2 separate regions of the Homo sapiens genome follow, and region 2 is linked to region 1. The links come from fine-mapping of genetic effects on gene expression. A gene starts in region 1. The other region holds a variant in brackets. All regions are shown on one strand. Distances are from middle to middle. Region 1 holds the start of NEGR1 (neuronal growth regulator 1). Region 2 overlaps LOC105378797 (a long non-coding RNA gene).

Region 1 (2,919 bases):
CTGCCTCTTACATAACTGGACCGCCTGGGCTCTACACAATTAAAACACTTGATTGCAGTCTTTTCCCGACTCTACATCCCAGCATGACCCGCCCCGTCCCTCCCAGCGCGCCTGCGTGCCGCGCGTGCACAGGCCCCCGCGCGCACGACACGCTCTCTATCACACACACACTCCATGTTGACCATAAACAATCCCCTACTCACACACACAACTTAGTGTCAACACCCACAGATAAAAGAGGGGCGTCCTGCAATCCATACGGGCCGACCGCCACAAACACGCAAGCTGCTCTGCCGCAAGGCCTTGCACCTCCTCGTGTCCCCGCAAAAAAGCAGCGCCCCGCCACCGTCCCTACCTATTCCCGAGAAAACGCAGAGAGAACTAGTTGGCTGCTCGCTAACTGCAGCGTAGCCACCCAGGCAAGATTAGAAGAAAATAAACAAAAAAACAACTCACAGTCGCCGGCGTCATGATGGCGCCGACCACAACTTGGAGGACTTCAAACTTACGGTGCCTCGAGAGGTAAAACGCACCGGTGAGGGAAGGCAAAGCGCCCCTCAGCTCTCTTCACCCCAGCCCTGACACGGAGACTTTTCTAGCAAAGAATCCCTCTAGCGCTTACGACAGTAAGGAGAGCCTTCATTCTAAGGTGCCTCTCTTTCCCCCTTAGTTTGCATAATTGTGATACAGTTCCTCCTATTTTTTTTTTCGTTGTCTTGCTTTTCTTTTTTTTTTCTTGCTATCTTTTTTCTTTCTTTTTTTATTATTTTTTTAATCCCCCTCCCTTCTCCATCCCCAGTCCCCTGGCGGGGTTGCTAAGGAAACGGCCGCTTGGCAACGCGCGCGAGCCCGGGAGCCGGCGGCCGGCGCAGCGCTCCGCGCTGCTTCTGCTGCTGCTGTTGCTGTTGCTGCTGCTGCTGCTGGGATTGCAGCCGCCGCCGCCGCCGCTCGCCCTGCCTCCTCCCCCGCCGCCGCGCCTCCTCCCTCACTCGCCGGCGCGCTCGCCTCCTCGCTAGATGGTGTGCGAGCCGCCCGAGAATTAGACACACTCCGGACGCGGCCAAAAGCAACCGAGAGGAGGTGTAGTGTGGTGCCAGGGGGAGGGAGGGGAGGGAGGGAGGGAAAGCGAAGAGGAGGAGGGGAGGCAAAAACACCGAAAAACAAAAAGAGAGAAACAACACCCAACAACTGGGGTGGGGGGAAGAAAGAAAGAAAAGAAACCCACCCACCCACCAAAAAAAAAAAAAAAAAAAAAAAAAAAAAAAAATCCTGTGGCGCGCCGCCTGGTTCCCGGGAAGACTCGCCAGCACCAGGGGGTGGGGGAGTGCGAGCTGAAAGCTGCTGGAGAGTGAGCAGCCCTAGCAGGGATGGACATGATGCTGTTGGTGCAGGGTGCTTGTTGCTCGAACCAGTGGCTGGCGGCGGTGCTCCTCAGCCTGTGCTGCCTGCTACCCTCCTGCCTCCCGGCTGGACAGAGTGTGGACTTCCCCTGGGCGGCCGTGGACAACATGATGGTCAGAAAAGGGGACACGGCGGTGCTTAGGTAGGAAGAACGGCGTGCTTTTCGTACTTGTTTCGGTCTATCTTTCTGTCTCTCTTTGAACCCTCTTTGCCTTCTTTATAACACAAGCAATAATGCTGGTGGTGCTCATCATGGAAAGACCACATCCCAAGAATTCCAGGTGCAGATTCTTCCCGGAGCCCCGGCCCGTTTATGCTGGGGCAGGTAGCAAGCTGGACTCGTGATGCTAAAGCACTTTGCCGGAACGCCAAGTAGCCTGGGGATGAGTGAACTGTCAGGTTTAGAAGGAGGGGCAGGTGCCACTTTGAAACTCAATGCACAAGGTCTCTGTTTTACTGTCATGGGGTACTCCTGGAGAGTCTGACAAGTTTATCAGGTTTGTTTCTATTTTACTCCAGCATAAGCGACTCTTTCAAACTGCTGTTCTCTGCTCCCATTTATTTTCCCTCTCACTTGGACACTTAGGCTCGATTTCTTGCTCTTTATCTTTCTTTCCTTTTACCGCTTTCTGTTTTCTTTCTTTTCTCCTTCCTCATTCTCTTATACCATTTTCCCCACCTCCTTGTAACTCTTTTTCCCTCCAATATCTCTTTTCATACCTTTTCTATTTTCTGTTTTTTCCCTCCTTTTTAAAATTTCTTCTCATATTTTCTCATTTTTATCTCCACGACTCTAATTTCTGTTCCTCACATTTAATCCCCTTTCCTCCTCTCTTTTACCCTTTTTTCTTTTTGTCTATTTTTTTTATTCCTCCTTAATGTCCCTATCCTGTGCCCTGTCTTCCCTCTTTTGACTCCCATTTCTCATCCCTCTCCCCATACCGTTTCCCACCCCTGTGGCACACACAGGCATGGTCACTGTTCCCCTCCAGTACCATTTACTCACCCTCATAAATCTTATTTCCATAAACATACTAACTCACATACTCTCACATCCTCACATGCACTGGCACTTCCATGCTGTAAGAACCACTTCCACATTCAGATTGTCTCTCACTGTTTTTAAAAGGCATACTCTCCTTCTCTGTTCCACATTGTCACTCACACATGTGTACACACTGCCTGTCTCACTCGCTGCTCTCACTCTGTCTCTGCTTCTCTCTTTTTCTCTTTCTGTGTCTTTCTATCCCCTTTTTATTCCTACCTTCCTCCCTCCATCAGTCTTCACTTTTACTTATTTTTCTCATTTTCCCTTCTTTCCTCTGAGCTTGAGCTCTGAGGTGGTTTGTCATTAATAAACATCCATACCCTGATTTTACCCCTAAGCAACACTGCAGAGTGGGAGTCTGGGAATATTTTATTTCCTATGAAAATATAAATGGATGATCAGCAAAGCTTAGATCTAAACAAAGCTAAACGCCCTATTCCTTCATTTCTTTCCCATCACCCTCCCTTCTC
Region 2 (2,919 bases), 65 kb before region 1:
CACCAATGGGTATTCACAAATTACCTACTAACCCTTTCAAAAATACGCCTGATTTTGTATTATCACCATTGATTTTGAAAGCTGTGCAAAATATTGTTAGACACAGAAGAGGTTTTTTTGCATTTTTTTGTTTTTCTTTTCTTTTTCTGAATAAGCTATTGGTTATTTTTCTTTTAAAATTCTAATACTTAATTGAGGATCTGAAACAGTTTTATCATATTTTGGTGATAATTGTATTTCACAATAGGTAGAAAAATCAATTGAAGAAAGATTTAATATTAACTAAATTTTGACTATCAGGATAGAATTGGCAATAAGAAGAAAATAAAAGAAGCAGACATTTTCAGGGAAAGGGCCCTTGTAATTTCTGTCCTTTTAAAACCACAGAAATTATCTACTCTAGATTGCTACTGACTAGACTGATTATAGTTTTTCAACTAAGGAGTTAGAATGGAGTAGAAACAGAAAAGGGACAATAGGAATAAGAGGCAAGCACGACTCTGGATTATAACTATTAAAATATTCTCGGCTGGGCGTGGTGGCTCATGCCTGTAATCCCAGCATTTTGGGAGGTCAAGGCGGGCAGATCACGAGGTCAGGAGATCAAGACCACCCTGGCGAACATGGTGAAACACTGTCTCTACTTAAAAAATACAAAAATTAGCTGGATGTGGTGGCACGCGTCTGTAATCCTAGCTACTCAGGAGGCTGAGGCAGGAGAATCGCTTGAATCAGGGAGTCAAAAGTTGCAGTGAGCCAAGATCGCGCCACTGCACTCCAGCTTGGGCAACAAAAGCAAAACTCCATCTCAAAAAACATATATATATATATATATATACACATACACACACACACACACACACACACACACACACACACACACAGAGAGAGAGAGAGAGAGAGAGAGAGATGTAGATATATAGATGTGTGTGTATATATATATATATATATATATATATATATATTCTCCTGATAATTATGTGGTCAAATTGGAACCTTTGTTGCTTTTTTTTTTTTTTTGTATCAAGCATATTCCTCTCCCAAACTTCATAAACCACCACTATGTTACTCAAGCTAGAAACCTAACTTATCATGCTGGATTTCTTCCTTTTCCTTATTTCTGACATCAAGTCATCCTAAAATTCTGTCATTTGTATCTCAAAAATATATCTTGTATCCATTCCCTTATCCCCATTTCCACACACATCACCCTAGATAAGCAAGCATCAAATCTCACCTAGAGAAGTCCTTCACAATTTCTAGTAAGCATACAAATTACCTGGGGATCTTGTTAAAGTGTACATTCTACTTTAGTAGGTCTGAAGAAAGACCAGAGACTCATCTTTTCTTACAGGCTTCCAGATGACATTGATCCTGCCATTCCATGGATCACCCATTTAATGGAAGGTCTAGATTACCTCAAGTGTATCTGTATTGCAGGGTCCAATTTCATCCTCCTGCA[G/T]TCTACTCTCCACCAAGTAGTTAGAGTGATTTTTAGAAAATAAAAAGCAGATATTTTAAATATCTGAAAATAAAGCTATATTTTAACTCGAGAGAACCAAACTATTATCAGTAGGCAAGAAAGGAACTTTCATAGAGCACAGGGTGGTGGTTTTTACTTTCGCAAAGTAGAATTTGCAACAGGATTTTAAATGGGAATTTTACCTCAATTCACAGAGGAATCAAAACTAAGGACAGATTGCAAATATCCCAAACAATCATAGAAATCATCTAGAAATGTCCCTACAAGATTTTACCAATCTTTCCAATATTCTTGTTCATCCCCTAATGAACATATGTAAGAGAAAGCTAGTGGTTAATGGGAATACATAGGAATACAGAACATGTCCTGGCTTTTCTCCTCCTTTCTGCATGGAGTAAGATGGGGAATATTTCATTCCCTGGTGACATGAGGGTGACCCAAGAGAATCACGCATAGAAATTGGGAGTGCCTCTGAGAAGGAAAGACAGTCTTCACCCTCTATTTCCCTTAGGGCAATTGGAGTGTAGAACAGTGAGAAAATTTCTGGGAAGGCTAGCTTGCATTTTCTAGAGTTTGCAATATTAATAATCACAGAAAATTATGCCTGCTTCTCAGCTGGAGAAGTCAGAAGCAAAATATTTCATCCTGCAAGCCTTAATACCACCGTTTGGCAGAAAAAGAATGGCTTATTTTCCCATGAACTCGGAAGACAGCTGAACTTAAGTCATTTTAAAAACACCCCAACTTTCTTCTCAACCTTCCTACCTTCCCCTACCCACAGCCTAGTACCTAGAGGAACCAGAAGCAATTTATTAATGAATGGAGGAGAACAGAAAGACCAAGGTGATGCAAGAGTAGAAAAAACAGAGCATGCTGCCTGTTTTCTATTGCTTCATAGCAAATGGACACAAACTTAACAGCCTACAGTCACACCTATTTATTAGCCTATAGTACTGTTGGTCAAAACTCTGACATGGAATAGCTTAGTTCTTTAACTAGGGTACCACAGGGCTATAATCTGGGTGTCTGATGACTGAGTCCTCATCTGGAAGCTCTAGGAAAAAAATCATTCTCATGGTCAGCTAAATCTTCTTGTTGGCAGAATACAATTTCTTGTGCTTAGATGACCAAGACCTCTGTTTCTGGCTGGCTGTTGACTGGTGGTTGCTCCTAACTCCTGGAGGCCACTCTGAAGCCCTTTTCATATGTACCCCTCCATCTACAAGTCATCAGTGGCACATTGAATCCCCTTAAAGCTTTGAAACTCTGATTTTCTTTTCTGCAACTAGCCAACTAAAACTCTTTTTAGAAAGTGGTTCAAGAGATTAAGTCAAATCCACTGAGATAATCTCTCAGTCTTAAAATCTACCAAGCTGGGACTTCATTTAAATCAACAAAATCTCTTCACAACAGCACCTAGATTAATGTTTTAATGA

What was found. PIP is the estimated chance that this variant, and not a neighbour inherited with it, causes the effect.
Region 2: its variant is fine-mapped to the expression of NEGR1 in blood mononuclear cells (TOPMed, PIP above 0.99).

Annotation. Positions count from the first base shown.
Region 1 is chr1:72,280,943-72,283,861 of GRCh38, reverse strand. It overlaps NEGR1 (neuronal growth regulator 1), which reads left to right and starts at 1,323. Exons shown (of 7, transcript NM_173808.3): 1 at 1,323-1,543. The coding sequence starts at 1,368. LOC105378797 (a long non-coding RNA gene) reads right to left here and starts at 928. Exons shown (of 6, transcript XR_947506.3): 1 at 457-928. RefSeq lists silencers at 887-976, 1,077-1,136.
Region 2 is chr1:72,346,079-72,348,997 of GRCh38, reverse strand. The region is part of intron 1 of LOC105378797 (a long non-coding RNA gene); the gene reads right to left. Among named protein-coding and RNA genes, the nearest start is that of NEGR1, 65 kb to the right of the region's middle. The variant G/T (reference allele first, on the strand shown) is at 1,463.